Linked DNA regions of Homo sapiens. The protein of the gene in region 1 interacts with the protein of each later gene in a biochemical or structural test. Each region holds a gene or a part of one and is shown on either strand. Other genes may lie near its edges. The genes, in order: GLT8D1 and GOLPH3.

Region 1 (16,284 bases):
CTAGTTTATTGTTTGTTTGCTCTTTAATTTCTTACGACTTTTCGAAACATCTTGAAGTTTAAAAGTTTTATGTAAACTGAACTATTAGTATTTTCCTGTATGGTTTCCACCTTGGATACCATGCTTAGAAAAGCCCTTCCTCTAAGATTACAGAAATATTTTTTCCTACTACATACTGATTGATTTTCTTTTTGTTTCTCAAATAGGTACGTTTGCGGGAGCACATGGGTGAAAAGTATACAACTTACAGTGTGAAAGCTCGCCAGTTGAAATTTTTTGAAGAAAACATGAATTTTTGAGCATTTGTCCTAATCTGCTGCCAGAATTAAAGACCTATTTTTAGAGGATTTTGGCTTAAAAAGCAAGGGCAAACAGTCATTTGGAAGCCACTCACCACTGTTTTATATCTCTTTTTTATATCTCTTTGGCGTTTCCCTACAGAAAAGAAATTGGACAGAACAGAATAATATGAAGCAGGATCACAAAAGAAAAAAAACTTTGGCTTTCATATTCTCTTTGTGAGGACAAATCTGTTGTTTGTTTGATTACTGTTTACTGAGCCTTAATCCACCAAGTTTATATTTAGAATTTTATTTTTTTAAGGTACTAATTAACTTAAACACAGAGCTATAAAATGCTGGATTGAAAATTTTATATTGTAATGTAGAGATAAAAGCAGTAGGAGAAACAAATGACATAATATGTCGTCATAATTCCTGCTATTGTTAATAACCTTAAGGAGTAGTTGATAAATTATAAAATTTTAAAAAGTCAATTCAGTTCTAGAAATAGATTTAAAGAATATGAAGTTCTATCTAGTACTTGAGCAGCTGTATTTCTTTTCTACACATTGATGGACTTTTAATATTTTATTCTCATTTAATATAAACCTCATCTAGGGTATATACAAATTAAAACTGAGACACATTGGCTTTGTAAATCAGTATGTTTTTACATAATGGTTTTGTTAGATTTATTTTTCCATCAGTGAAAACATTTCTTAAACACAAATTTCATTTCCATTTAAGCAATTTGTAAGCAAAGTCCAGGTCCATTTAGTTTTTGGATATATTTAATGTTTGTCTCCTGAAGTTTGTCTTCATGTACTGTAAGATATTAGTTGTCTTTCCATGTTTTAAATGTATGATTATATAGCACATATTTTATTAGTTGTTTAATAAGAGGTAATACCCATCTAGGAAAGAAATTTTATGAAGTTAAATACAAGTCTTGAATAGTACATTTTCACTTCTGTATTCGAGGGACTCTAAAAATAAATATTGCTCCAGAAATGTTTTCAGGTGTTTTTTTTTTGAGACAGAGTTTCACTCTGTCAGTCAGGCTGGAGTGCAGTGGCATGATCTCAACTCACTGCAACCTCCACTTCTGGGGCTCAAGTGGTATTCCTGCCTGAGCCTCCCTAGTAGCTGAGACCACAGGCGTGTGCCACCACACCTGGCTAGTTTTTGTATTTTTTGTAGAGACAGGGTTACACCACATTGCCCAGGCTGATCTCAGAACTCCTGGGCTCAAGCAATCCACTCACCTCAGCCTCCCAAAGTGCCAGGATTACAGGAATGAGCCACTGTGCCCAGCCCTGTTTTCAGTTTCTATAACTAAAAATATATCTATCTTTGAAAATTACACACACACACAAATACTCTAATGAAATGTTCCCTTTACAGCCACTTAACAATTTTTTTTTTTTTTTAAGACACAGTCTTGCTCTGTCACCCAGGCTGAAGTGCAGTGGCCCAATCTCAGATCACTGCAAGCTCCGCCTCCCAGGTTCACTCCATTCTCCTACCTCATCCTCTCGAGTAGCTGGGACTACAGTTGCCCGCCACCATGCCCGGCTAATTTTTTTGTATTTTTTTAGTAGAGACAGGGTTTCACCGTGTTAGCCAGGATGGTCTCAATCTCCTGACCTCGTGATCTGCCCGCCTCGGCCTCCCAAAGTGCTGGGATTACAGGCGTGAGCCACCGCGCCCGGCACACTTAACAGATTTTTATTTAGAGTTTACTGTGTGCCAGGTTCTCTGCCAGGAGCTGGGGATATAGTGGTGAATAAAACAATACTTCCTGCCCTTTTACAGTGCTCACAGCCTGGTTTCTGATAACTCTTATTTTCACTTTGAAGGGTTTGCTAGAACTCAACTTGCAAAACCATCAAGTCCCAATGCCCAGTTGGGAACAAATCTTTGGCAAACTTGGTATCCTTGAGCTATTCACCTTTCCGTGCATGTTTTGGAAATCCACATCGTTCTGGAGAGTCATCAGTTTTACTTAATTTTTCTAATGTATTGGTATAAAGTAGGTATTTTATTAGAATTAAAGGAATCTCACCCATATCTTTTTTTTTTTTTTTTTTTTTTGAGACAGGGTCTTGCTCTGTCACCCAGCCTGGAGTGCAGTGAGGTGATCATAGCTCACTGCAGCCTTGACCTCCTGGGCTTAAGTGATCCTCCCACCTCAGCCCCTCAAGTAGCTAGGACCACAGGCATGCACCACCACACCTGGCTAATTTTTAAAATTTTTTGTGGAGAGGAAGTCTGTGTTGCCCAGGCTGGTCTCAAACTGCATTCAAGCAGTCCTCCTGCATCGGCCTCTGAAAGTGCTGGGATTATAGGCATGAACCACCACACCTGACTTCCCCCATACTTTCTTATTAATTACCATACTGTATATTTTTATTTTGTTTAAACATCTTTTCTTCCCACTTTTATCGTTTTTACTTGAGTGCTTAATTCATCTTCCTAAATTAATTTAAAAACTCATCTTTAAGACTGTGAATTTTCTTCCGAATATACCTTTGGCCACAGTTCAGAGACTTTGATGTGTTACTCTTTTGGCATTGGTTCTAAAATGTCAATCATTCTTTTTTTTTTTTTTTTGAGATGGAGTCTTCTTGTTGCCCAGGCTGGAGTACAGTGGTGCGATCTTGGCTCACTGCAGCCTACGCCTCCTGGGTTCAAGTTCCCCTCCCTCAGCCTCCCGAGTAGCTGGGATTACAGGCACACACCACCATGCCTGGCTGATTTTCGTTATTTTTAGTAGAGATGGAGTTTCACCATGTTGGCCAGGCTGGTCTTGAACTCCTGACCTCAGGTGATCTGCCTGCCTTGGCCTCCCTAAATGCTGGGATTACAGGCTTGAGGCACCATGCCTGGCCTAAAGTGTCAGTAATTCTGATTTCGGTTTTCTCTTTTAGAAGTTTTGATTTCCACAGACTTACAAAGCTAAGGAAGTTTTATGTCCTTGCTCTGGCTACACTGCAGTGTTACTGAATATCACCTGCACAACCTTTACTGCTTGCAGTTTTTTTTTTCCTGTTGCTTTGTACATGATCCGTTATTCAAATGGCCTTATAGGCATTCAATAAAGGTGAAATGTTAAATACAAAATCACTTGTCTATTAAATTTTATTCAAGGTTCTATATAAGATCTGATAAATGGAACTTTGTGATGGAAATGTTTTATATGGTAGCCACTAGTCACATATAGCTATTGAACCTTTGAATCATGGCTAGTTTTAGAGTTTTATATTTTAATTTTAATTAAATAGACGTGTCTAGTGGCACCATATTGTACAATGCAGTTCTCATTCAATAAATCTTAAGTACTTAACAATGCATCGTGTACTCTTCTATGTACTGGGTAGACAGCAGTGAGCAAAACAAAGTCCCCGTTCTCATGGAACTAATGTTCTAATGACAACTATTAATTACATACCATGAAATGTCTCAAACTCCTGGGCTCAAGTCATCCTCCTGCCTTAGCCTCCTCAAGTGCTGGGATTATAGGTGAGAGCCACTGCACCTGGCCAGAAGCACGAACTTCTAACTTAGGCTTTTATTAATTATCTTCCTTGCAGAATAATCAACAGAAGACCCTTTAGACAAAGAACTTGCACTATGAGGTTTAATTGGAAACATTAAAATGGTTAACTCATAATGAATTATAAAACTTTGATAGTTACATTGTACTATCATTTATGAGGCATTTATTTTTCATTATTTACACCTGAAAGAAACTTCATACTTGTGTGTTCTGTTCCCCATCTCAGAGCAAGATTATGAAGAGAAGGTCTAAACTACTTATATAAATCAAAACCCAACTGGGCTAGAAATGAAGTATAAAGAGAACTAAATCTATACACAGCTGTGCCATAAGAGCATTAGGTGGTTTTAGCTCTTATCTGGGGTATGAAAGCAATTTAGCTCATCTCACAGAAACAAAAGCAGGTGCTGAATCATGAAAACCTCAATTATTTTTAGCATGCCTCTTAATTTTTCTTTCCCCTGGTTTCTTGTCGTCTGTGCTTGATTCTTGAACAGGTAACCACTTGAGAGGATGCCGGCGATAGATGGGCCATGGAGGAAGTGTCAGCTGGGCCAGAAAAGAGGAAATGCATAAATTATAGCTATTAAAAGTTTAAAAAATCATTACGTATAATGCCAGGTTCCCAAATGACTCCTATGCTGAGGGAACAAAAAAACAAAAAAAAAAATCCATATTCCTATAAAGGCTCTGTGCCACCATCCATGCAAAATACTGTATGATGATGGGAACAGGCTCACTGCCTATACAAATGGCTTTAAGACCTAAAAGAAAGGTGGGGGCCAGGCGTGGTGGCTCTCGCCTGTAATCCAAGCACTCTGGGAGGCCAAGGTGGGCGGATTGCTTGAGACCAGCCTGGCCAACACAGTGAAGCCCTGTCTTTACTAAAAATACAAAAATTAGCTGGGTGTGGTGGTGGGCTCCTGTAGTCACAGCTACTCGGGAGGCTGAGGCAGGAAAATCTATTAAACCCGGGAGGCAGAAGGTGCAGTGAGCCGAAATCGCCCCAGTGCACTGCAGCCTGGGCAACAAGAGTGAAACTCCGTCTCAAAAAATTTAAATAAATAAATAAATAAAAGGTGAAGGGACAACGTGAGCACCATGAAAACTCCTGCTGGCTTTGACCTTAAGATTATTAGCCAGAGTAGCCGCCAAAGGAAATAAGCTGTGTCCTTTTATATAGTTCGCACCATCTGACACTATTTTGGCATTCTACTTTTCCAATGATAGCAAAGGGAAACGCTGTTTGGAAGGATGAGGGAAACGTTGGCTTTGGGTCTCACTACTGAGTAGGTCTAACCAAACCAACCCGACTCACAAAACCCAAGCTGCCACTAATACCCACAAATTTCTTACCAAACATGAAAAAGCAAATCCGGCCATAACTATATAGACAGTCCACCCGAACTGTTCAGCCACGTACCCGTAGATAAATCCAACTATCTAGAGACAAATGAAGTATATTAAACACACTCAAACTGAGGGTTGGGAGGGAGGCGGGGGCGGAGATTAAATGTAAAACCAATACTTACTGCAGAAAAAAGAATAATTCCCTGAAACATCTGTTCAGCTAGCTTCTGGCCCTTGTAATCCTGGGGTGAAGCAGAGGAAAAAAAGAATTGGTTCCACCGCCGAGAACATACAATTCCTGCCCTGACCTCACAACTCTGGCACAGGGTAACCCCAACATCAGGGTCTCCCGCTCTCCTAAGGGCCTGGGCAAGATATTAAATTCTGGGCTTCCCGGGAGGAACTGAAACACCCTCACGGAGAATGGACAGGAGATTCTCGCGGAGTAGAAGAGAAGGGGACCCAGGAGGCAATTCGGGAAAGAGGGTGGACGGTAACCATCCGGGCCCGGAACAGCGCAGCACCGGGTCGGTGCTCCAACATGGGCTTCGAAGCTGCCAGGCACAAGAACGGCGTGCAGAGGTCCCCGGGTTGCGCCCTCACCATCTGCGTGGGCAGCGAGCTCAGATGCTCCAGCATGGCTGGCTGAGGAGGCGGGCAGCTGAGCGCGGGTGGCAGGCTGCGAGGCGAGGGCGACCGAGACTTAAGGACCGTGAGGGGTAAGGTCTGGCACTGCGCGTCAGTAGCCGGGCCTTCTAAGCCCGGGAGAGCGATGGCGGCGGCCCCGGAAGCGGAAGTCTCCGACGGGCCGGTACAGCCCGTGTCCCCGCCCCGCGCCATCGCTAGGCGACGTGCGCTTTTGCCGCGCCGTGCTGCCCGCGAGGGCAGCTGAGGTGGTGGTGGCGGCCGCCTTGTCGAGGCATCGCGCGCCCGTGAAGTGTTCGCCGTCAGTGCTGTTGGGTGCCTGGAGCCGCGTCCCCCGTCCCGAAAACTGTCCTTGACAGTACTTGCGCGGCCCAACGGCCGCCGGCGCCCCCGCGTCTCCATGGCGACGGCCTTTTTCCCTGCGAGGACCCCGGCGGCAGGGCTGCCCCGCGGCGCCTGCTTGGCGCGACGCTCTAGCGGTTACCGCTGCGGGCTGGCTGGGCGTAGTGGGGCTGCGCGGCTGCCACGGAGCTAGAGGGCAAGTGTGCTCGGCCCAGCGTGCAGGGAACGCGGGCGGCCAGACAACGGGCTGGGCTCCGGGGCCTGCGGCGCGGGCGCTGAGCTGGCAGGGCGGGTCGGGGCGCGGGCTGCATCCGCATCTCCTCCATCGCCTGCAGTAAGGGCGGCCGCGGCGAGCCTTTGAGGGGAACGACTTGTCGGAGCCCTAACCAGGGGTATCTCTGAGCCTGGTGGGATCCCCGGAGCGTCACATCACTTTCCGATCACTTCAAAGTGTAAGGGGGGCCCTACTGACCCTTGGAATTTAGGGGGGCTACCCTAGGCGGCATCCACAACAGAGAGAATTCCCTTGGAGAGGGGACCCTGGTGCTCGGCTGTCCCTCTCATCCGCGTAGAAAGTCCCTCATCTGGGGGCTCCCGAACTCAGCCCTCTCACATTGTGGCCGGCTTTACTGACCCTCACAGACCCAGGCTGGGCCCTCCCGATAGAGGCCAGCCAAAGGTTCACTCAGCCTCTCTTTCAAGGCTGGTGTATCTCTAAATCTTAGACCCTCCTCCGTTACCGTCAGCCAGGTGGGATGCCCACGTTTTGGAGAGAAACCGTTCTGAGGAACCCGGGCCTCTGGGTCCCAGCTGGCTCTCCGGCCCCCAGGTTATGTATTCTGGGTTGGCCACAAACAGTGGAATTCTAGGCACTCCCGGGACAGGGTGGGACTGCTGTCCTCATTCATGCAACCAGCAAATATTCACGGCACCTTGTTTGTGCCAGACAGCAGACCGAGGACACGGTTGTTACCAAGACCAGGCTGTTGCCTTGGAAGAGCCCAGAGCGTGTCAAGGGAGACAGCCACATCACGCCAGAAATACATGACAGCTGGATTAGCCCTGGGAGAGGGAGGCCCAGATGTGGGAGCTCAGGGGAGGTGCAGCTCAACGTGGAGTTTGGAGGAGGCTACCTTGACCTTTGAATGCCAAGTGGGAGCCAGCCAGATGAAAGGGTAGGAGAAAGTGTTTGTATATCCTCAGTGCCCTTTCATCCTTGCACGTGGCAGAGACCAAACAGTAAAATGCAGACACGTTTGACACTTTTCTGACCTCAGAAGGACTCAGGACGTGTAGAAGGCAGAAAGAGGGATGGGCAAGAGTTTATTCCTGTTTCCTTCTCATGCTCTGTATTTCTTGGTGTGTTTGAAGAGACTTTCTGTTGTGTGTATAAATAGATATATCTCTGTGTGGTCTTTTTTTTTTTTTTTTTTTTTTTTTGAGGCGAAGACTCGCTCTGTTGCCCAGGCTGGAGTGCAGTGGTGCGATCGCGGCTCACTGCAACCTCCGCCTCCTGGGTTCAAGGGATTGTCCTGCCTCAGCCTTCTGAGTAGCTGGGATTACAGGCATGCGCCACCACGCCCGGCTAATTTTTGTGATTTTAGTGGAGACGGGGTTTCACTGTGTTGGCCAGACTAGTCTCAAACGCCTGACCTCAAGTGATCCACCCACCTCGGCCTTCCAAAGTGCTGGGATTACAGGCATGAGCCACCGCGCCCGGCCAGTGCGGTCTTTTTTTTTTGTATCCACAGTTTTGTATCCTTGGATTCAACCAACCACGGACTGAAATTACAGATACAGAGGGCTGACTGTAATATGCCATTTTACATAAGGGACTTGAGCATCCGTGAATTTTTGTATACATGGGGAGTCCTGGAGCCAATCCCCGACTGATACTGAGGACCAACTGTGTTGCTAATCAAATTGTACACAATTATATACTCTTACGAAAATGTAGTTAACTATTACAGATCCAGCGTCTGTGTGCAATTTCGTTTTGAGAATTCCTTCTAACCAGATCAGGAAAGCTCTCTTACCAGGAATAGCCCCAGGAAAGACAATATGGATTAGACGTACTCCATGATAACTGGCGTTTTGCATGTAGGTAACTGTGGAAGTTTTAGGAGCAACTGGTTTCTGCCTTGCCAGTCTACTTAAGTATGTCAGATACTTGATAGAATTGTGTTTTTCTTGTTTCCAGCCAAGTGTGCCTCTTGATCCCGTAACTGCTAACTGGAAGTCAAGAAACTAAAAACATTATCTCTTGTACCATTAATTAAGTGGGATTTATTTGAGTGCAAGATCGTTTTCTCAGTGGTGGTGGAAGTTGCCTCATCGCAGGCAGATGTTGGGGCTTTGTCCGAACAGCTCCCCTCTGCCAGCTTCTGTAGATAAGGTCAGCCCATAATGTGATAGAGGCATATGACTTAGGGTATATACTGATGTATATACTTCTCTTTTTTTTTTTTTTTTTTTGAGACAGAGTCTTACTCTGTTGCCCAGGCTGGAGTGCAGTGGCACGGTCTCAGCTCACTGCAACCTCCGCCTCCCGGGTTCAAGGGATTCTCTTGCCTCAGCCTCTCAAATAGCTGGGATTACAGGCACCTGCCACCATGCCTGGCTAATTTTTTGTATTTTTAGTAGAGATGGGGTTTCACCATCTTGGACAGGCTGGTCTCGAACTCCTGACCTCTTGATCCACCTGCCTTGGCCTCCCAAAGTGCTGGGATTACAGACGTGAGCCACGGCGCCCTGATGTATATGAGAAGAAGTTCACTGACACGTTGTACTTCATATATACTGCTTTGGAAAGGTGTGTGTGGGCTGGGCCTGGTGGCTCAGGCCTGTAATCCCAGCACTTTGGAAGGCCGAGGCAGGTGGATCACCTGAGGTCAGGAGTTCGAGACCAGCCTGGCCAACATGGTGAAACCCTCTCTCTATTAAAATTAGCTGGGCGTGGTGGCGCACACCTGTAGTCCCTGCTACTCGGGAGGTTGAGGCACAAGAATTGCTTGAATCTGAGAGGCAGAGGTTGCAGTGAGCCAAGACGGCACCACTGCACTGCAGCCTGGCTGACAGAGCCAGACTCTGTCTCGAAAAAAAAAAAAAAGGAAAGAAAGAAAGATGTGTATTTTCCCCCTAATTTGTAATCTGGCCTGTGATCCCATTTTTAAAAAAAATTTTTTTTAGATATGGGGTTGGGGGATGGTCATACTATGTTGCTCAGGCTGGTCTGGAACTCCTGGGCTCAGGCAGCCTCCCACCCCAGCCACCTGAATAGTTGGGATTATGGGTATCAGCCACAGTGCCTGGCTGATCCACAGTTTTTATTGCTTTTTATTTTTTATTTTTTTGAGACAGGGTGTCGCTTTGTCACCCAGGCTGGAGTGCAGTGGCATGAATATGGCTTACTGCAGCCTTGACCTCCCTGGCTCAGGGGATCCTCCTGCCTTAGCCTCCCAAATGCTTGGGACTACAGATGCACGTCACCATGCCTGGCTAATTTTTGTATATTTTGTAGAGATGAGCTTTCACAATGTTACCCAGGCTGGTCTTGAACTCCTCAGCTCAGGTGATCTGCCCGCGTTAGCCTTGTTGTTTTCATTTTGGGATTATAGGCATGAGCCACAGTGCCCAGCCCCCAATTTTTTAAACAGTTTTTCAACATATTTCTCTTCTTTACAAAGGCCTTGAGAAATTAAGTGCCTGGTAGGCACACAATTTTCCCAGGATGAAGTTAATTCAAACTTACTTTGTCTGTAGTCCCTGCTACTTGGGAGGCTGAGGCAGGAGGCTTGCTTGAGCCTAGGAGTTAGAGGCCAGCCTGGGCAACATGGTGAGACCCTGTCTAAAAAAACAAATGAACTAACTTGCATTGCAATACGCTATGTTTGAAAGTGCTTTGTAAAATTAATAGCCTTATGTAAGGGTTGGGTACTACTATGGGTGAAGATGAAGTAAGAAAGGGTTAAAAGGTAGGTTCACGATATCTTGGTTGGTAAAATGTCTTTAAGGAAACATTTTATCCAGAGCTTGTTGAAGGAATTTATTTTTTAAATAAATTTAGTTCCACCTACTATCTTGTTTCCACTGAATTGTTTTGAAAAAGTGAAGGTCAGATGAGCTGAGGAGGACCAACCAGGACATTGTGACAATTAGACACCACCTTCTTAAGAGATGAATAGCTAGCTAACAGAGATGGTTTTTGAGAATAGCACCTTAAATGTTTTTTTGGCCGGGCGTGGTGGCTCACGCCTGTAATCTCAGCACTTTGGGAGGCTGAGGTGGGCAGATCACGAAGTCAGGAGTTCGAGACCAGTCTGGCCAACATGGTGAAACCCCATCTCTACTAAAAATACAAAAATTAGCTGGGCGTGGTGGCGCACACCTGTAATCCCAACTATTGGGAAGGCTGAGGCGGGAGAATCGCTTGAATGCGGGAGGCAGAGGTTGCAGTGAGCTGAGATCATGCCGCTGCACTCCAGCCTGGACGACAGAACAAGACTCCGTTTCAAAAAATAATAAACTAAAATAAACCTTTTTTTTTTTTTGCTAGTTACAATGGCTAGAAATGTACTCCACACTTTTGATATCGATTGGATTTTGTGAATTTTTGTAGCTTTTTCTGTGCTGTGGGTTTGTCAAGTGAATTTGGATAATATTCTTTTCTCTGAGGACACTCATGTTAAAGGTGAATGGGATACAACTCTGAACAGGCATGTTTTTACTGATGAGGCTAAGACCTCAGGTTACTTGGTCATAGACAACGTGAATCCATGTCTACTTTAGGAATTTTAAGTAGAAACTTAATTATGTTATGTAATTTTTTATTTTAAAGACAGAGTCTCACTCTGTCGCCCAGGCTGGAGTGCAATGGCATGATCTCGGCTCACTGCAACCTCTGTTGCCCAGGTTCAAGCGATTCTCCTGCCTCAGCCTCCTGAGCAGCTGGGATTACAGGCCCCTGCCACTGCACCTGGCTAATTTTTTTGCAGTTTTTAGTAGAGACGAGGTTTCACCATCTTGGCCAGGCTGGTCTTGAACTCCTGACCTCATGATCCACCCCACTCGGCCTCCCAAAGTGCTGGGATTATAGGCCAGACCCTGCCTGGCTGAAACTTAATTCTTAAATGTTTCTTTTGCTTTTCATCTTGTGATGTATAATGTACAAGGCTAAGGCTGTTTCTCCAACTTATTTTTAAGTTTTTTATTAATGAGTACCACAAAAATTTCAGATCCCAAATTGGGTTCTTGGGAACTGTGAATTCAAAATGAGTTTCTGGCGGAATACTGTATATGCCTCTTGTTTCTTCCTGAATTAAAAAAAAAAAAAAAGTGTTAGGGCATTTTGATGTCCCTTCTCATGTGCTTACTGACTTTGGGGGCTTGTTTTTGTTTTGTAGGGTTAAAAACTAATATTTATATGACAGAAGAAAAAGATGTCATTCCGTAAAGGTATGCTCTTTCTACAAGTTAAGTTGTTTTTATACCTGGTCAAAGATAAAGAGGTATAACATAGGTTTTCCCTATCTATTTCAGTAAACATCATCATCTTGGTCCTGGCTGTTGCTCTCTTCTTACTGGTTTTGCACCATAACTTCCTCAGCTTGAGCAGTTTGTTAAGGAATGAGGTTACAGGTATGCGAGCACTTATTAATAATGCCTTAGAATCTGTTGCGGACCTGGTATTCTCTGTGTCACACATCCTAAGTTGTTCTTCTTCCGGTAGTACTAGCAGTTGTTTGTTAAGGGTTTGATCTGACAGAATATTCCTTTTCACCAAATCAGAGGCCTTAGGAGAGCCTCTGAGGGCTGCCATCTGTTCACATGTCAGCAGGACAGGGCTTCAGAAAGTGAGGGCATACCAGTGTCCTTGGTGTTTGATGCCTGCTCTAGTCACTAGAGTGTCAGTCTAGTTACTTTCCTTCAGCTGTGCAGCTGCATCAGTGGGACTGTAGCAATAAAAGTTTGTCAAGTGATTTTTAAAAATCACTGTGTTGTATAATATATCGCACAGTATATTGAATTAGTCGTTCATACTGTTCTCCCTTGGTACTGAGAAATGTTTGAGGCTTGAGTGTTTGTCAAAAATCATTTTTGGATTGCCACCCACCATAGCTGACCAGAGTGAGAGACTGTAATAGCTTTCCCCTGACTTTCACGGAGTGCTCTGATAGCATGTTTTATCACGTGTATATATGTATGATACATATAAAGTAATGCATGTTCCTGGTAGGAAAGTTTATAAAAAAGAGAACAGCGGCCGGGAGCAGTGGCTCATGCCTGTAATCCCAAAACTTTGGTAGGCCAAGGTGGGCGTCTCACAAGGTCAGAGATCGAGACCATCTCAGCACTTTGGGAGGCTGAGGTGGGCAGATCACGAGGTCAGGAGTACAAGACCAGCCTGGCCAACATGGTGAAACCCCGTCTCTACTAAAAATACAAAAATTAGCTGGGCGTGGTGGTATGCGCCTGTAGTCCCAGCTACTCGGGAGGCTGAGGCAGGAGAATCGCTTGAACCCAGGAGGCGGAGGTTGCAGTGAGCCAAGATCACGCCACTGCACTCCAGCCTGGTGACAGAGTGAGTCTTCGTCTCAAGAAAAAAAAAAAGAGACAACAGTATTTAAGCTCCATGAAGGCAATTTGTGTACTGTTTTATCTTCTGTGCCTATGGATGATGGCTGATACTAGCTGTTCAATAAATATTAGTTGGTTGAATGATTTCATTTACAATTTTGGCTTAGTACCTTCCAGTTTTTTCCTACACATCTTTTTTTCTGTACAGTTGAGATTGTACTATATATAAACTGTACATGACATGTTTTTCTGTATATCATGTCACTGTGATGGTAGAAACTCTTCATACATAATCTTAATGTCTATTAATTTGTTTCCACAGGATAACATCTTTTGCTACAACAGCTTTCAGACTTTTTGATGGCAGCCCTACAATAGGAAATACATTACATGTAGCACATGTACATACATGTGTATTTGCTTATTGGCTGTCTATCCTCAGAAAGTTAGGGATGTTTTATTCATGGCTGTAACCCCAGTGCCTAGATATTGCCTGGCACATAGTAAATACCAGGGTTCAATGAGGAATAAAAAAAAAAAAATGAAAGGCAAGAATGCATACAGGACAGTAATTGCAGTTTCCTTGTGTGATACACTATGTTTTCTTTGGTATTCTAATTCAGTTTTCTTTTTTTTTTTTTGAGATGGAGTTTTCCTATTGCTGCCCAGGCTGGAGTGCAGTGGTACAGTCTTGGCTCACTGCAACCTCCACCTCCCGAGTTCAAGCGATTCTCCTGCCTCAGTCTCCCAAGTAGCTGGGATTACAGGTGTTCACCACTACACCTGGCTCATTTTGTATTTTTAGTAGAGATGAGGTTTCACCATGTTGGTCAGGCTGGTCTCAAATTCCTGACCTCAAGTGATCCACCCGCCTCAGCCTCCCAAAGTGCTGGGATTACAGGCGTGACCTACCATGCCCGGCCTCTATTTCAGTTTTCTATTGCAATCCAGAAACTTTTTCTGTATAAATTGATTGTGACTCACTCAATTGGTTTCATGCCTACTTGTGATTCGTGACTTGAAAAACATTGATTTAGTTTGCTGCTAAGTTTTCACAATTTAAATAAAATTCTTTCTTTTGATTATATTTCAGATTTTGTCCTTAGGAAACTCTTGATACAAATTGCCATAATACATTCTAACAGGTTCTGTTATTTTCCTACCAGTAGTGTACCAAAGTGCTGTCAGTGTATTTTAAAAAATGCTTCCTCCACTTTTCCAAAAGCTTATTTACATACAGGGAAAGTTTCAGGGCTATATGCTTCAGTTTAATGGGGGAGAATGAGGTAGATCAGTACCATAATCCTTACCTTCCCTTTTTCCATGTCTTGGACTCTATATCAAAAGCCCATGAGATTGTAATCACAGTGCCTTCCTTGTGTTTTCAGATTCAGGAATTGTAGGGCCTCAACCTATAGACTTTGTCCCAAATGCTCTCCGACATGCAGTAGATGGGAGACAAGAGGAGATTCCTGTGGTCATCGCTGCATCTGAAGACAGGCTTGGGGGGGCCATTGCAGCTATAAACAGCATTCAGCACAACACTCGCTCCAATGTGATTTTCTACATTGTTACTCTCAACAATACAGCAGACCATCTCCGGTGAGCTCTGCTTATGTGATTCTGCTTCTAGAGGATGATTTAGAGCAGGCCAGCTGCCAATCCAGGATCTGTTTTTCTGTGGTTTGTATGTTGTTTTATACAATTGAAATTGTACCAGTGATAAACTGTACAAATGACATATTTTTTTTAGGACTGTATTATGAGCATATCCCCATAATAGGAGAAGTGATACAAGGAGCTCATGCCAGGAAGTAAGTCAGCTGTCACTCTGAACTGTTAACCCCACCTGATGGTGTTTTGATAATAATACTTTCTCAGTGAAGGGAGCAGTAAATGTTGATTTACAAGTCACAAGTTCCTTATTTCATGGACATGCTCGGAGCAGTTCTGGTCTAGAGTGGGAAGGGACTTAGCAACAATGGCAAGGTAGTGTTGTGATGCTGATCACAGATCCTGATCCAAATCCTGGCCCAGAGTGATCTGGGGAAACTTGGATAGTCTAATCCATTTTGAAAATGAATAAGACTTATAAAACTTACTCCAAATTTGTTGGTCTAACAAATTAACCAGTTGTCAAATTTCTGAAACATTTTGGTCCTTGTGGCCCTCTGCATGGTTCATATTTAGTTTTTAAAGCTGTAAATTCTGAACGCATTTAAAATACAGAAACAGAAGCTGTATAAAAATAGACTACAGAAATAACACTAAGTAGCCACAAAACACTGATTTGAAACTGACCTAGAAAAAATGTGCAGTACTCCTTTAGCAAACAGTTTTTTCTTACAGGTAGTGCCTCAGACTTGAGTGGTGGAATTAGGGTCACCACAGTTAAGAGTTGGATAGTCCAGGTGGTGATGAAATGTTCTTAATTCTATAGTTTTTCTAGAGTAGTTTTAGTGTTAGAAGATAATTACCATACAATCTTAATTCAGGGAGGGACTTTGGTGGGAATTACCCTCACTTCAGACGAGGAAACCAAAGCTCAGAGATAAAAGGAGCTTGAAAACACCTATTTGGTCCATAGGGTTTCTTTTGCATTATTCCCTCATTGGTTTGGAGACATTATTTGAAACTAAAATGTAGTGTTTTATCTTCATCAGGTCCTGGCTCAACAGTGATTCCCTGAAAAGCATCAGATACAAAATTGTCAATTTTGACCCTAAACTTTTGGAAGGAAAAGTAAAGGAGGATCCTGACCAGGGGGAATCCATGAAACCTGTGAGTTCCATGCATCCTTCTTTGCACTTGGCAGTATTAGGAAATAATGGAATACCTGGGTATCTGTGGGTATAGTGCAAGTAGTTTCCTGGGGACCAAGCCTGGGTGGTTCTAAGAGTCCTTTCTTCTCCTGAATGGGTACTGAAAGCATCCTAGGAGTTTCTGTGTAAATAAAAGCACAGCTAGTGCGGTATCCTATGCCAATTATTCTTTCCTTTTCCAGTTAACCTTTGCAAGGTTCTACTTGCCAATTCTGGTTCCCAGCGCAAAGAAGGCCATATACATGGATGATGATGTAATTGTGCAAGGTATCAAAAATGTCACCATGAGTGCTGTTCTCCACCCAGATTGGGTACAATTGCTAAATAAAACAATGGGCTACAGTGGGCTGTAGTGGTTTATTTATGGTCTTCTATAAAAGGTCACCATAGGGAGAAGTGGGAGTAACAGGGAACTCTCAAGGCAACGGAAATGTAAATCTTAACATCTTGTCTATTTCAGGTGATATTCTTGCCCTTTACAATACAGCACTGAAGCCAGGACATGCAGCTGCATTTTCAGAAGATTGTGATTCAGCCTCTACTAAAGTTGTCATCCGTGGAGCAGGAAACCAGGTAAATTGCTTACCAAACACCCCTCTTCCTACAATATTGTTTAATGGGAAGAGGTTGCAAATTCAGGGAACTCTTTTGCTGCAATTTACACTCCCCAATCATTTCATCCCAAAACTCAAGCCTGCTTTTCTGTAGA
Region 2 (16,284 bases), on another chromosome or scaffold:
TTACAGTGACCCAAGATCGCACCACTGCAATCCCGCCTGGGCGACAGAGCAAGACTCTGTCTCAAAAAAAAAAAAAAATTAACGTTCTAAAATGTATTATGGTGATGGATACACAACTCTAAATACACTAAAAGTCACTGCATTGTTACCTTTTACTTTGTTTTTTTAAAGACAGGGTTTCATTCTGTCACCCAGGCTAGAGTGCAGTGGCTTGATCATAGCTCACTGCAACCTTGAACTGCTGGGCTGAAATGATCTGCCCACCTCAGCCTCCTGAGTAGCTGAGACTATAAGCAGGCACCAGCACACTCGGCTTTTTATTTTTATTTTTTTAGCAATGGGATCTCACTACGTTGTCCAGGCTAGTCTCAAATTCCTGGCTTTAAGCAATCCTCCTGCCTTGGTCTCCTCCAAAGTGCTAGGATTACAGGCATGTAATCCTGGATTGTACTGTTTAAATAAGTGAATTGTCAATTAAATCTCAATAAAGCTGTTACCAAAAAAACTAAGCCAAAAACTCCCCTTAAGCATTTCAAATGACTAAAGAAAGCCCTCAGCTTTCTGATTTTTTTAATTAGCAAAAGAGTAAGGCTATAGACTACATGTTTGTGTCCCCCCAAAACTCTCATGTTAAGATTCTAGCCGGAAGCGGTGGCTCATGCCTATAATCTCAGCACTTTGGGAGGCCGAGGCAGGCAGATCACCTGAGGTCGGGAGTTTGAGACCAGCCTGACCAACATGGAGAAACCCTGTCTCTACTAAAAATATAAAATTAGTGGGGCATGGTGGCGCATGCCTGTAATCCCAGCTACTTGGGAGGCTGAGGCAGGAGAACTGCTTGAACCCAGGAGGCGGAGGTTGCCGTGAACCAACATTGAGCCACTGCACTCCAGCCGGGCAACAAGAGTGAAACACTGTCTCAAAAAAAAAAAAAAAAAAAAAAAAAAAAAAAAAAAAAAGATTCTAACCCCCAACAGGGTCTCTGGAAGGTCATTAAGTCATGAAGGCAGAAGCCTCATGAATGCAATTAGTGCCCTTATAAAAGAGGCCCCAGAGAGTCCCTATGCCCTTCTGCCATGTGAGGATGCAATGAGAAGACAACCAGGAAGCAGGCCCTCACCAATTTCTTGTTCTTGAACTTCCCAGACTCCAGAACTGTGAGAAATAAATTCCTGTTGTTAGCTGGGCACAGTAGCTCATGCCTGTAATCCCAGCACTTTGGGAGGCTGAGGTGGGCGGATCGCCTGAGGTCAGGAGTTTGAGACTAGCCTGGTGGTCTCAGCCATGATAAAACCCTGTCTCTAGTAAAAATAGAAAATGAGCCAGGTATGGTAGTGTGCACCTGTAATCCCAGCTACTTGGGAGGCTGAGGCAAGAGAATCACTTGAACCTGGGAGGCAGCGGTTGCAGTGAATGGAGACTGCGCCACTGCACTCCAGCCTGGGTGACAGAGCGAGATTCTGTCTCAAAAAAAAAAAAAATCTGTTGTTTATAAGTCACACTGTCTATTGTGGTAGTCCCAACCTTTTTGGTGCCAGGGACTGGTTTCAGGAAAGACAATTTTTTCCACGGACTGGAGCGGCGGGGGGGATGGTTTTGGGATGAGCCTGTTCCACCTCAGATCCTATCGGGCATTAGTTAAAATTCTCATAAGGATCGCCTACCTTAGATCCCTCATCACATGCGCAGCTCATAACAGGGTTCATACTCCTATGAGAATCTAATGGCTGCTGCTGATCTGACAGGAGGCGGAGCTCAGGCAGTAATGCTCGCTTGCCCGCCCCTCACCTCCTGCTGTGCAACCTAGTTCCTAACAGGCCACAGACCAGTACCGGTCCATAGCCCGGAGATTAGAGATCCTTGGTCTATGGTATTTTACAGCAGCCCAAATAAACTAAGACAGATAACAAAACCAGTAAAGTAACTAAATAATGATTGGATTTGGGTGCCATCCACATGTGTAAGTTACTGGTAGTAATCAAGTTATGATTACGTTTTAAAAGTTCCCTTTTAAGCAATTTGTAACACAGAATGTATTTTTTCACAGAAGTAACAGCCAGGGCCCTCAGGGCCTCTATTCTCATGGTCTTCACTCAAAACCAGGGATCTTATCTGCCACTCCCTGGGAACTTGGACATCAGCATCCTTAAACCCACAACCTTTTGATGAGAACCAAATCCAACTCGGAAATTCAATCCACAAGTAACTTTTCATCATCCTTATGGGGATTCCAATCCTCAGCCTTCCTCCCTTTTTCCCACCAGTCTCCTCCGTTCTTTCCCTCATCCCCACCCAGCACAATAAGTTACTGTGCACATACCATGTGCAAAGCACTGTTCTGAGTACTAAGTACTGTGGGAGCTCATTTCAACCTTCGCAACAACCTTCTGAACTAAGTGCTATTATTATCAATCCCAATTCAAAGATGGGCAAACAACGCCAGAGTACACTACCTTCAACTACACCCTTACTAGTTTCCTAAACACATCCATTGTTTCCCACTGCATTCAACTAGCAAAACTCCAGCCCCGGATCAATCCAACTGTCACTTTTTCCATATCTGTACCTGTGTTTCTGAACTGCTGATGTAAAAAAATATTGAAATCTCAGTATATAAATGTACTGTCTCCAACTTAAACTAAACCTTTAATGATACTGGGGTTGGGCATAGTGGCTCACGCCTCTAATCCCAGCACTTTGGGAGGCTAAGGCGGGTGGATCACTTAAGGTCAGCAGATTTGAGACCAGCCTGACCAATATAGTGAAACCCCATCGCTACTAAAAATACAAAATTAGCCGGGCATGGTGGTGCATGCCTGTAATCCCAGCTACTTGGGAGGCTAAGGCAGAAGAATCGCTTGAACCCAGGAGGAGGAGGTTGCAGTGAGCCGAGATCACGCCATTGTACTCCAGCCTGGGTAACAAGAGCTAAACTCTGTCTCAAAATAAATAAATAAATAAATAAATAAATAAATAAATAAATAAAATACACACACACACACACACACACACACACACACACACACTGGGCAAAATCAGCTTTAAACTCTGTCTCAAAATAAATAAATAAATAAATAAATAAATAAATAAATAAAATACACACACACACACACACACACACACACACACACACACACACGGCAAAATCAGTTTCCCTACTCAGAGCTCTTACCACTCTCCATATCAGATATTTCAAAACCCCATTCTCCCCAAACCTCTAAAGCTCAGCTCATTTTCAGCAGATTACTTCACAAAAACAAACCAACTCAATAAACTCAATTTCATACATACCCACTCTTTTGTCTCGTTACAGTGCAGTCTGCCTAAAGCTAATCCTACCCATTCTCTCCTACTTCCCTTTGTTCACAACTCCTGCCCTCCTAAAATACCTTAAATCTCTAACATGTATACTAGCACCTGCCTATTGGCCTTCAAATATTCTCACAGTTACCATCATACAAGAGACAGACCCGGACCAACCCTGCCCTATCTCCTTTCCATTCACAGCAGACTCGAAGGTATCATCAGCAAGTCCATCTCCACTACTCCTCACTCTTCCTCCTGCTGGCTCCACAATCCCCCTCTTCTGGCAGCTCCTGCTCGGGCTCTTTGTCAGGTTACTCTTCTGCTGCCTATTCCTCCAACGGAGTGCTCTTGGCCACTTACACAGACTTCTCAGGTACTCTCACTTATTTTCAAAAAAAATTCAAATAGAAATACATGACAGAAAATTAAAAGTCTCTACTTTCTCTTCCGCTTCCATCCCTCACACATTCCCTCTTCAAGATACTCTCCATTAACATTTGGAATGTATCCTTCCAAATCCTTTTTTAAAGTGCACACAGTCATACTCTGCCATACACTGAGTATCTATGCTGTTAAAACTGTGTTAAGCATTCAGTGTACATTCTTTCTAATTCTTAGGAAACCTTGTAAAGTAGGTGCTATTCTTCCAATTTCACAAGATAATGGAACTGAGGCTCAGAGGACCTGCCACGCACTGAGTGGCAAAGCAGGGAATGAAATTGGTCTGCCTGGCTCCAAAGCCCTGGCTCCTTTTCTGTCTTGCCTTCCAAGACCTGTTTATTTAATGCATGATCTAGGTGTGCTTCCTTTCAGCCCCCTGAAACAGAAGAGGGTACAGGTTGAGTATCCCTGTACTTGGGACCCGAAGTGTTTCAGATTCTAGATTTGGAATATTTGCAAATACATAATGAGATACCTTAGGGATGGGACCTAAGTCTAAATACAAAATTCATTTGTGTTTCACATATACCTTATACACATAGCCAAATGTAATTTTACACAATATTTTAAATAGTTCTGAGCATGAAACAAAGTGTGCCAGGTATGGAATCTTCCACTTGTGATATCATGTCAGCACTGAAAAGGTTTCAAATTTTGGAACCATTTCAAATTTCAGATTTTCAGACTGGGGTGCTTGACTGGTATCACTTTTTTCTTTCCACACCTGCCACTGATCACTTCACAGCAGAGAGCACAAAACAAAGTGTGAGCAGACACTCCCTCTCAAGCAAATGAATTTTTAAGGGTTTTTCACTAGTGGTTTTTTAAAGTATATTTAACAGCATCTTGTTAGTAAGACCTAAATATAAGCTACAGTCTTTATTCTTCTGTAAGAAACACGAAGGTTTTAATACAAGAGAATAACATTTCAGTTTGCAAAGCCATTTATAAATTATCATCTAGGTTCTACAATTACCTAGTAAAATATCATCACCTTTTTACATTTGAAAAATCTGAGGTTTAGAGAAAGTAAGAAATATGACTACATTCACACTCTAGAGCAGTGATACCTCGAGCCCCAGAGCTGTGACTCTAGATACAGCACTTTTACTACTGCATCATACTGTGGGTAAGTATTTTAAGTTGAGGACATTTTGACAAGTCCTATGTAAGTTTTATATCAAGTCACTATAACATTTATTAGATACTGGCCTCTGCATTATTTTCTAAAAGCAGAAAATCATTCCCACTTGGGAGGCTGAGGCATAATGCTGCATAAAGCAAAAACTGTAATTATTTAAATTCTCAAAATAGACTGAGGTGGGAGGATCACTTGAGCCCAGGAGTTCAAGGCTGCAGTAAGCTATGATTATACAACTGCACTCTAGCCTGGGTGACAGAATGAGACTCTGGGGAAAAAAAAATTATTGGAAGTAATAAATTTCTATTTGTTTAATATACATTTTTATTATTAAAATAGAGACAGGGTATTGCTGTGTTGCCCAGGCTGGTCTCGAACTCCTGGACTCAGGCAATCCTCCTATCTTGGTCTCCCAAAGTGCTGGGATTACAGGCATGAGCCATCATACCCAGCTGGAAGTAATATATTTCAAGAATAATTTTAACTCAATAAACTCTACTGAGTGCCAAGACATTACTAAACAGAGGTGATAAAGATGACTAATATACAAAGGCATAGAATGAAAAGGAAGAAATAATAATTACAATTTCAATGTGATTATCATAATACTGATATAAATAAAATGGTGTCCCCTCACTCATTCTAAAGACAAACACTTGTGCAATACTAGGCATTGTGCTAGATGCTAGAGATACAATGGTAGGCAAAAAGGATGTGAGAGCAACTAAGAAGTTAGATTAAGGTGAAGAGTCTCACTAGGCAGTAAGAAATAACTAAGAATTGGCTGCTAGGTAGAAAAAGGCAGAGCCTTACATATAAGGATCCACTAACACAAACATGAAGACCTAAAAAAGTAATCATGGGCCAGGCGCGGTGGCTCACGCCTGTAATCCCAGCACTTTGGGAGGCCAAGGCGGGCGGACCACGAGGTCAGGAGATCGAGACCATCCTGGCTAACACAGTGAAACCCCGTCGCTACTAAAAATACAAAAAATTAGCCAGGCGTGGTGGCGGGTGCCTGTAGTCCCAGCTACTCGGGAGGCTGAGGCAGGAGAATGGCGTGAACCTGGGAGGCGGAGCCTGCAGTGAGCCGAGATCGCGCCACTGCACTCCAGCCTGGGTGACAGAGCGAGACTCCGTCTCAAAAAAAAAAAAAAAAAAAAAAAAAAATTGGGTGGCATCAAAAAGATAAGGTGAGGCTGGGCCCGGTGGTTCACATCTGTAATCCCAGCACTTTGGGAGGACGAGGAGGGAGGATCACTTGAGCCCAGGAATTTGAGACCAACTTGGGCAACACAGCAAAACCCCATCTCTACAAAAAATACAAAAAGTAGCCAGGTATAGTGGCGCACGCCTGTAGTCCCGGCTACTTGGAAGGCTGAGGTGGGAGGATCACCTGAGCCCAGCAAGTTTGAGGCTGCAGTGAGCAGAGATCACACCACTGGACTCCACCCTGGGTGACAGAGCATACCTTGTCTCAAAAAAAAAAAACCAAAGCTGAGGAAAAAAAAAAAAAAAACCAAAGCTGAGAATATGGAAAGGTGGAGAGAACTGCTGACCACAAGGGCTGGAAGAGGTCAAGGCCTTTTGAGTTTTCTGATTTGGAGCATCAAGGCGTAATGAAACTTAATATTTATTGTGCACCAACTATCAGGCACTTTACATGTGCTATTTTATTTAATTGTGACTGGAGTCATTTTGGAGGCTTGGAGGCTACTGATACGTCTGGAGGCTAAGCAGTATCTGGAAAAGAGGAATCATGGAACCAATCCCAAGGATTCTTTAAGGAAGACTCTGGGCTTGACCTAAAAATCAGAAGTCGGGCCAGGCACGGTGGCTCACGCCTGTAATCCCAGCACTTTGGGAGGCAGAGGCGGGCGGACCACGAGGTCAGGAGATCAAAACCATCCTGGCTAACACGGTGAGACCCCGCCTCTACTAAAAATACAAAAAATTAGCAGGGCATGGTGACGGGCGCCTGTAGTCCTAGCTACTCGGGAGGCTGAGGCAGGAGAATGGCGTGAACCCGGGAGGCAGAGCTTGCAGTGAGCCGAGATCGCACAACTGCACTCCAGCCTGGGCGACAGAGCGAGACTCCGTCTCAAAAAAGAAAAATAAATAAATAAAAAATAAAAAAATAAAAATCAGAAGTCAAGTGGTACTTCAAGTTTCCAAATTTCCCAAACCAGTTTTGCCAGGAATTACAAAAAGGAAACTGACCAGAGGTTCAGAACAAAGGTAGAGATAAATACACCTACTATGTGCCCATAAAAATTAAAATTTTTAAGGCCAGGCGTGGTGGCTCACGCCTGTAATCCCAGCACTTTGGGAGGCCAAGGTGGGCGGATCACGAGGTCAGGAGATAGAGACCATCCTGGCTAACACGATGAAACCCCGTCTCAACTAAAAATACAAAAATTTAGCCAGGCGTGGTGGCAGGCGCCTGTAGTCCCAGCTACTCAGGAGGCTGAGGCAGGAGAATGGCATGAACCCGGGAGGCGGAGCTTGCGGTGAGCAGAGATTGGGCCACTGCACTCCAGCCTAGGCAACAGAGCAAGACTCCGTCTCAAAAAAAAAAAAAATTAAAATTTTTAAAAAAATACACGCATAGATGAGCATCTGAATTTGAGTAAAACGTTCAGTAAGCCCAGCATATAAAGTGCAAGAGAATCAAGAAATAGTAAAAATAATGGAAATATTAAATACTTGTCACTTGTCAAGACCACTATAAACTTTAACTTACTTCTCTAGGCTAGGTAATTACCCATTTGCATTTGTTCAGCACCATGTGGTTTTCAAAGCACTCACATATGCCAACACATTGGATCCCTACAACTTAGAGGCTTTCGGACAGAACACAAAAGTAGGCCCATGGCCGGGCGCGGTGGCTCACGCCTGTAATCCCAGCACTTTGGGAGGCAGAGGCGGGCGGATCACGAGGTCAGGAGATCAAGATTATACTGGCTAACACAGTGAAACCCCGTCTCTACCAAAAATACAAAAAATTAGCCGGGTGTGGTGGCAGGCGCCTGTAGTCCCAGCTACTCGGGAGGCTGAGGCAGGAGAATGGCGTGAACCCGGGAGGCAGAGCTTGCAGTGAGCCAAGATTGCACCACTGCACTCCAGCCTGGGTGACAGAGCGAGACTCCGTCTCAAAAATAAAAAATAAAAAAGTAGGCCCATTTTGCCCAGGAGAAAACTAAGGTTCTAAAATTCAAAATATTTATTCTAATTCTTTCAACTACTCAAGGGCAAGGCTAGGTGTCAAGAACACAGCAGTCTTGCAGGTCCTGATCCAAAGCATCCTCCCTATGTACATCCTTACTGCACCTAACACATACTCCCATAAAAGTTAGTAACTCAGAAGAGGCAGGCAGGATAAAGTTAATAATTCACTTTATTGAAATCATTCGCAAATCTGTCTTCTATGCAGACTGAATGCTCCTTAAAAGCAAAAAATTTTTCTTTGTGGCCGGGGGCACAGCGGCTCACATCTGTGATCCCAGCACTTTGGGAGGCCAGGAGTTCAAGACCAGCTTGGCCAACATGGTGAAACCCCGTCTTTACTAAAAGTACAAAAATTAGCTGGGCATGGTGGCATGTGCCTGTAATCCCAGCTACTTGGGAGGCTGAGACACAAGGATTGCTTGAACCCAGGAGGAGGAGGTTGCATGAGCCAAGATCATGCCACTGCACTCCAGTCTGGCGACAGAGCATGACTTGGTCTCAAAAATATATACATATATATATATATTTTTTTTCTTTGTAACCCCAGCATCTGGCAAAGGGAATGAATGGCACAGAGAAGCTGTTCAATACTTGGATTAAACGGAACATATAAATACTAAATAACCTCTAATTTCACTTTAGCTACACAACATGGTATAGACAAAAATTAAATGGTATACTCCATTCAGTGACTGAACTGAAATTTAAGTTCTTAAGTGTTATTTCTGAGGTTATTTTGTTAATACGGTATAAACTGTTTAGCATTTCCATTTAAGAAACTGGAACTAGAAAATGAAACCAGAGTAAAAATAACCATTAGCAACTTTTACATACAGTTTCTTAATTTCTAATCTGTCCCAGAAGGTAGTGGTGGAATACAAAGTTTGCCTATATATTATCAATAAAAATAACTTTTACCTTAAAACTTTAACTCATAAGTTCCTACACGCAGTTCAGTATGCTAAAATTGTTCCTCTTCCTACTGAACTACAAGCCAAATTCTATTGCAATAAAAATTCCTATCAGAGAAAAAGATTTCTAAACCTCAACTAAGCACAAGCTTATAATTTTCCATAGTGACTTATTTCAATGTTTCTCACCCTTTATTTCATCACTGTTCCCTTAAGAAGTACTTCCAGATTTTTTCCTCATTATCTTCTCCCCCATGAAATTTTAATATGATGGAATATACATATTTGTTTGTACACTGTAAGTGTGCCTTTTTATACATAAGAGGAGTAAGATTCTTTTTTTTTTTTTGAGACGGAGTCTCACTCTGTTGCCCAGGCTGGAGTGCAGTGGCGCGATATGGGCTCACTGCAAGCTCCGCCTCCCGGGTTCACGCCATTCTCCTGCCTCAGCCTCCCGAGTAGCTGGGACTACAGGAGCCCGCCAGCACGCCAAGCTAATTTCTTTGTATTTTTTTAGTACAGACAGGCTTTCACCATGTTAGCCAGGATGGTCTCCATCTCCTGACCTCGTGATCCACCCGCCTCAACTCCCAAAGTGTTGGGATTACAGGGGTGAGCTACCGCGCCCGGCCAAGAGTACGATTCTTTCACTACCACGCCCAGAACCAAGTTTCACTCCCTTGGCAATGACATTACCACACTGGGAATACATAATTTACTTAATAAAGCCAGTAATCTACTTAATTAATACAGTAAATGTATTAAGTAAATTTATTTAATAAGTAAATTTACTTTAATAAATAATATTAGCTTACTTAATAAGGTAAATTATGTATTCTTTTTTTTTTTTTTTTTTTGAGATAGTCTTGCTCTGTTGCCCAGGCTGGAGTGCAGTGGCATGATCTTAGCTCACTGTAACCTCCACCTCCTGGGTTCATGTGATTCTCCTGCCTCAGCCTCCCGAGTAGCTGGGATTTCAGGTGCATACCACCCTGCCTGGCTAATTTTTGTATTTTTAGTAGAGATGGAGTTTCACCATGTTGGCCAGGCTGGTCGCTAACTCCCTGCCTCAGGTAATCCCCTTGCCTCAGCCTCCCAAAGTGCTGGGATTATAGGCATGAGCCACCACACCTGCCAGGGTTAGGTAAATTATGTATTCTTAATGTGAGTAATGTCATTGTACTGAGTGACTGCCAAATGCCAGCCTGAAATATATGACATCAAAAAATTATAGAACAGGCCAGGCAGGGTGGCTCATGTCTGTAATCCCAGCACTTTGGGAGGCCAACGTGGGTGGATCACATGAGGTCATGAGTTTGAGACCAGCCTGGCCAACATGGCGAAACCTTGTCTCTACTAAAAATACAAAAAGTACCCCTGTGTGGTGGTGAGTGCCTGTAATCCCAGCTACTCAGAAGGTTGAGGCAGGAGAATCGCTTGAACCCAGGAGGCAGAGGTTGAAGTGAGCATAGATTGCACCACTGCACTCCAGCCTGGGTAACAGAGCAAGACTCTGTCTCAGAAGAGAAAAAAAAAAAATTCTAGAACAGCAACATAATTTAGTTTTGTAGTTTACTATATGAGCTTTGACACACAGAACTAAAATGAATGAACTTGAAGACAGACATGTTCTTCAGTGAATTTGTACTTAGTAAAGGGCCTCTCACAGAGCATGTGCTCAGTAAACATTTGATGAATGGATGAAAACTGTTAGAATCCTAGATGTGTGGTAATCCTAGATTAGAAGCAGTTATGCTGCTTCTAAATGTCATTTAGCAAGATGAGAACCTCTAGACAGGCCACAGAAATGTGGACTTCGTATCTCAAATCACTTAAAATTCAACTCGCTACAACCCTGGAAACCTGGAATTTTCTGTAGTTAATTTTCAGGAAGGAAAAAGAAAAGACGAAAACCTTAAGCTAAAACAAACAGTTCCTGTTTGGTAATTTTTAACCTTCCTGATTCACTAAATGCTTTGAGTATCTAATGAAAGTTCTGTCCTCTTTCCCCAAGAAAACACACAACTGCAGAGAATTCACAAAGTTTCTCAGCTCTGTTCACTCCAATTTAAGAACTTCTCCATTAAAGGAATATGTAAATCAAATACAATGCATTAAGTTTAAAAATAAGTAAATTTTTTTGTTGTTGTTTAAAATGTTATTCTTAAAAGTGACCAGAAACATCCTTGTTGGCAATACACTGTACTTTAATATTAGTTGTGTTTTTGCAGATGAGAGGTTTACCAAACGGGAAGAGAAATAGCCTATGTTCTAAATATATTTGTAATACCTAAGTCAAAAACCTCAAAATGTACTAGATTACATTGTAATACTGTACAATGCTATTAAAACAGGTTGCAGTCTTCCCAGCTTTGATAAGAGAAACCTGAAGCCAAAAACATCAATTTCAAAATGAAGCCAGGTTTCCACTTTTGGCACTTGTCAGGACACTTACTAAAAAGCAGCAGCATGGCCGGGCACAGTGGCTCATGCCCAGACCTTTGGGAAGGCGAGGTGGGCGGATCACTTGAGGTCAAGAGTTCGAGACCAGCCTGGCCAACATGGTGAAACCCCATCTCTACTAAAAATACAAAAATTAGCTGGGCATGGTGGCAGGCGCCTGTAATCCTAGCTACTTGGGAGGCTGAGGCAGGAGAATCACTTGAACCCAGGAGGCGGAGTTGCAGTGGGCCAAGACGGTGCCATTGCACTTCAGCCCGAGTGATAAAAGCAAGACTCCATCTTAAAAAAAAAAAAAAAGCAGGAGGAGGACAAGCACTGTCTTTTTGTGCTGCTTCAAAGGGAGACTCACAACATGAAGATAAATCCTCTAAACAAAGACTACAGCATAGTTTTATACTATTTAATCTGATTAATGGCAGTAGAAAAGTTATGCTGTTAGAAGGGGGGGGGAGTTTGCAAAGACATAAAAAAGTGTACAGCCAAAAGCTTAACATTATGTACCAGAACAAGCATAATGCCTGATGCCTCCAGGGTATTTAAGATTTACATGTAAGATGATATTATAAAAGTGTATTTCTTTAAATATCAAAAAAATCCCCCAAATATTTCAAAATCTATCAAAATAACTTCAAAATACAATTCTTTTGTTTTGTTTTGTCTTTTGAGATGGAGTTCCACTCTTGTCGCCCAGGCTGGAGTGCAGTGGCGCAATCTTGGCTCACTGCAACCTCCGCCTCTCAGGTTCAAGTGATTCTCCTGCCTCAGCCTCCCGAGTAGCTGGGATTACAGGTGCTCGCCACCATGTCTGGCTAATTTTTATATTTTTAATAGAGACAGGGGTTCACCATGTTGGCCAGGCTTGTCTTGAACTCCTGACCTCAGGTGATCCATCCACCTCGGCTTCCCAAAGTACTGGGATTACAGGTGTGAGCCACCGCACCCAGCCTTCAAAATACAATTCTAAAACGTAATTCAAATGCTCCATACAAGAACTCTCAGGTAGTCCAAAATTAACAAATATCAAATATTAGTATAACTTATGAGATGAGTTAGTGAATATTTTGACCATATTGTAAAAGAATCCCAAAGCACTAAAAAGTAATTTCAACAGTATAAAATCTTGTTGAAAAGGTATAATAAGCAGACCAGGCGTGGTGGCTCACACCTGTAATCCCAGAACTTTGGGAGGCCAAGGCGGGAAGATTGCTTGAGGCCAGGAGTTCGAGACTAGGCAACATAGTGAGACCACGTCTCTACAAAAAAAAATTTTTTTTTTTAATTAGCTGGGCATGATAGGGTGCGCCTATAGTCCCAGCTATTCAGGAGACTGAGGAGGGAGGATTGCTTGAGTTCAGGAGGTCGAGGTTGCAATGAGCCATGATCACACCACCACACTCCAGTCTGGAAGACAAAGCTAGGCCCTGTCTCAAAAGAAAAAAAGTACAATCAAATAGTTTAATGAACTTCAAAAGTAATTTCTGAGATCCTGTATATCTCATACCTGTGTTTAAACACCTGAAAAAAATAGATAAAAATTCAAAACTTCAAAAAATATGAAGGAAATATCATTTGTCTTAGAAACAACGAAAATTCATTAAAAACTCAGAAGCCTTTATTATATTTTAAATTACTAAAACTCAGCACATCTGGAAATTCTGAATACTTGTTGACTGAATTTCTGATTTACAGATTTGATATGTAGAGATGGTGGACATCACCACACGTATAGAAAGGAAAACAATTTTTGTTAAGTTATACATCTTCATCACTATTATACTTCAAAGTAGTGACCTTGGGAACCTTATTCCAAAAATGGAAAACATCTTTGGAGCCTGTGTAAAAGCCACACAAAAGTCAGTTCTATCATTTTGGTTAATCTTAAGTATTTTACCCCATTACATATTATTTACCTCAAGTACCTACTTATTTTTCAAGACATAGAGTTAAGTTACTGTATTACAGTTCTTGTCTACAAGCATTAGAAACATTAGTAACTGACTCTGGCTATCTTTAAAAAGCAACTTTACTGGAAGGCTGTTGAAACTCACAACACTGAAAGATGACTGGAAAATCAGACTGGAAAAAAACAGTGCCAACAGACCAGAGAAAGCAGCTCAAAGAACCATGCCAAAGAACAGTCTGATCCACACGCTGACATGACTCTGGAAAGGTCTCCAAAAAACCCTACAGCTCGTTATTCTCTCAAGATCCAAAGCCCTGAAAGAAAACATATGATTGGACAAGTCTGGCTGCATGACAAAACAGCAGGGGAATAATATGCTTCAAGAGTGCATCCTAGAGCCGGTCGCAGTAATCCCAACACTTTGGGAGGCTGAGGCGGGAGGATCACTTGAGGCCAGGAGTTCGAGGCTGCAGTGAGCTATGATCTCGCCACTGTACTCTAGCCTGGCGACACAGCACAATCTGTCTTAAAACAAAAACCAAAAAACACAACAACAAAAAAAAAAACAGGTGCGGTGGCTCATGCCTCTAATACCTGCACTTTGGGAGACTGAAGCGGGAGGATCACTTGATCCCAGGAGTTCAAGACCAGCCTGAGCCATGTGGTGAAATCCCTGTCTTTATAAAAAAAAAATTTTTTTTTAATTAGCTGGGCATGGTGGTGTGTGCCTGTGGTCCTAGCTCCTCGGGAAGCTGAGGCAGGAGGATCACTTTAGCCCAAGAGGTTGAGGCTGCAGTGAGCCAAGATCGCACCACTGCACTCCAGCCTGGGTGACAAAGAAAGACCCTGTCTCAAAAACAGGCAACACACTATGGGGAAACCCTAAAGTAATACAAAATAAAGCGAAGACCTGGGGAGGAGTTAATAAACATCCACAGCAGTACAATCAGAACCATCATATGGAATGACTACTTTTCCATTATACATGAAAACACTGAAGCTCAGAAGGCTTAAATTATATGTAAAAGCCAAAGAATACACTTTGGACAGGACTATAGAGCCTCTCTCTGCTTCTGCTGTTCCATAGGCATACTCCAAATTATACTTGGCCACTGAAAATAATTAAATCTAACCTTAAAAGACTAAGATTTGCCACCAATGAAGACATTCAAACATATATGACACCAGTTATTTGTGGTAATTCTCAATAAAGCATCCTGAAAATATTCTATGGAAAGCATCTATAGAATAAACACACACAGGGAAAGGAAAATACCTGGCACTTTTGCTGTCCCTCCCCCTCAAACACTGGGTCAATTAAAGAAATACTGCTAATTACTTGGCAGTTGAATTTAGGTGTAAACTATCTGCCATCCTTACTGTGGTCTTTAAAGAGTTACTTAAATACTTATGCACTGATTCTCTGCCCAAGTGAGCATGAAAATCTTCTGAGGGGACTAGCCATCCCTGTTTTATAAAAGCAAAAAACAAATATCATTGGTTAAAAAAAAAAAATCTGAAATGTGTAAAGAAAAAAAAAAAAATCAATCACAATGACTTTAGACTCACTCCTAACAGGTAATCTGAAGCCAGACCATCTGCTTATTCAAAAACTGAACCTTCTGTTCAGCAAAAAAGAGAGGGAGACTTGACTCAGAATATGTCAAAGTAATTTTTTAAATATTATAGATTATAAACATGTTAAAAATAAATTGGTAAGACAATAAGAACAAAGGACAATCTCACACGATATGGATGAATCTCACATTGAACAAAAAGCAGACACAAAGTACAAAAAACTAGGCAAAATTAATCTATGCTGAATTCTAATATTAAGCCAGTGGTTACCCCTGAGGAATGGGTAGTGACTGGAAAGATACTCAAGTGGAGGGCTAGGGCTTCTGTTTCTTGCTCTAGGTACTGGTTTAACAAGTATATTCACATAAGGTTATTAGCTCACATATATAAAATATTTCCAACATTAATGATTTGCTTAAATGTAAAGTTTAGCTTTTAAAGTTCTTAGGAGAATCCAGACATTAAAAAGATAAATGCTGAAGTAAAAATCAGTTAAAGCAATGAGTTAGCATAAACGCCTGGGCTCAGGGTAAGACAGCAATTCCTGCCTCCTAAAAAGAGTACTATAGGTTAAAAACATGGTGGCGAGCCTCCCAAGGGAAAAACATACCAACAGATAAGTTGACAGGGCTGGTTATTAGAGTGTAAAGACATGATGAGTTGGCTTGATGGCATGCACCTTGTATTCCCAGCTACTCAGGGCGGATCACTTGAGCCCAGGAGTTTGAGTGCAGCCTGGGCAACATCTTGAGACCTCCATCTCTTAAAAAAAAAAATTTTAAAGATGTGATGAAAGGAAAAAATATATAGGCTAATCCCTAAAACCAAAACCTAAAGCAATACAAAATCCCAGTAGTCTCAACCCCACCCCTCAACTCTCTGGACTTGCCTAAAAAAAAAGAGAAAAAATTTCCCCATGTGGTTGCTGAAATCAGGAAGAAATGCTCACAATAAGCTAGCAAGCATCTGGACCTTAGCCATGACTAGCAAAGTATAATGAGTGACTCTTGATGCAAAATAAACAGAACACATGGTTTCAATTACCCGCCAAATAACTTTAAATTGTTTAAATTATGTGAGTATGGTTAAACTTCAACAAATTATTTAGATTATCTTCTTAAGACCCAATCACCGAAAAACAGCATGTTAATATGCTTCACCTTAAACATTTAGAGCAAGGGTGTCCAACCTTTTGGCTTCCCTGGGCCACACTGGAAGAACTGTCTTGGGCCATATATAAAATACACTAACACTAGCAATAGCTGATGAGCTTTAAAAAAAAAAAATTGCAAAAAAAATTTCATAATGTTTTA

The links.
Region 2: the proteins of GLT8D1 (region 1) and GOLPH3 form a complex in vitro, tested with the Homo sapiens proteins (one study listed by BioGRID).

Annotation. Positions count from the first base shown.
Region 1 is NC_000003.12:52,695,792-52,712,075, reverse strand, and holds the start of GLT8D1 (glycosyltransferase 8 domain-containing protein 1), read left to right. Parts: upstream 1-6,284; 5' UTR 6,285-6,629; intron 6,630-7,123; exon of another isoform or gene 7,124-7,352; intron 7,353-8,147; exon of another isoform or gene 8,148-8,277; intron 8,278-8,377; exon of another isoform or gene 8,378-8,572; intron 8,573-11,579; 5' UTR 11,580-11,615; coding exon 11,616-11,631; intron 11,632-11,715; coding exon 11,716-11,814; intron 11,815-14,141; coding exon 14,142-14,355; intron 14,356-15,416; coding exon 15,417-15,534; intron 15,535-15,757; coding exon 15,758-15,842; intron 15,843-16,035; coding exon 16,036-16,148; intron 16,149-16,284. Other genes in the region: SPCS1 (signal peptidase complex subunit 1), read right to left, coding at 4,264-4,389, 5,197-5,283, 5,373-5,432, 5,794-5,829.
Region 2 is NC_000005.10:32,155,036-32,171,319, forward strand, and holds part of GOLPH3 (Golgi phosphoprotein 3), read right to left. Parts: intron 1-16,284. UniProt on the Homo sapiens protein: Phosphatidylinositol-4-phosphate-binding protein that links Golgi membranes to the cytoskeleton and may participate in the tensile force required for vesicle budding from the Golgi.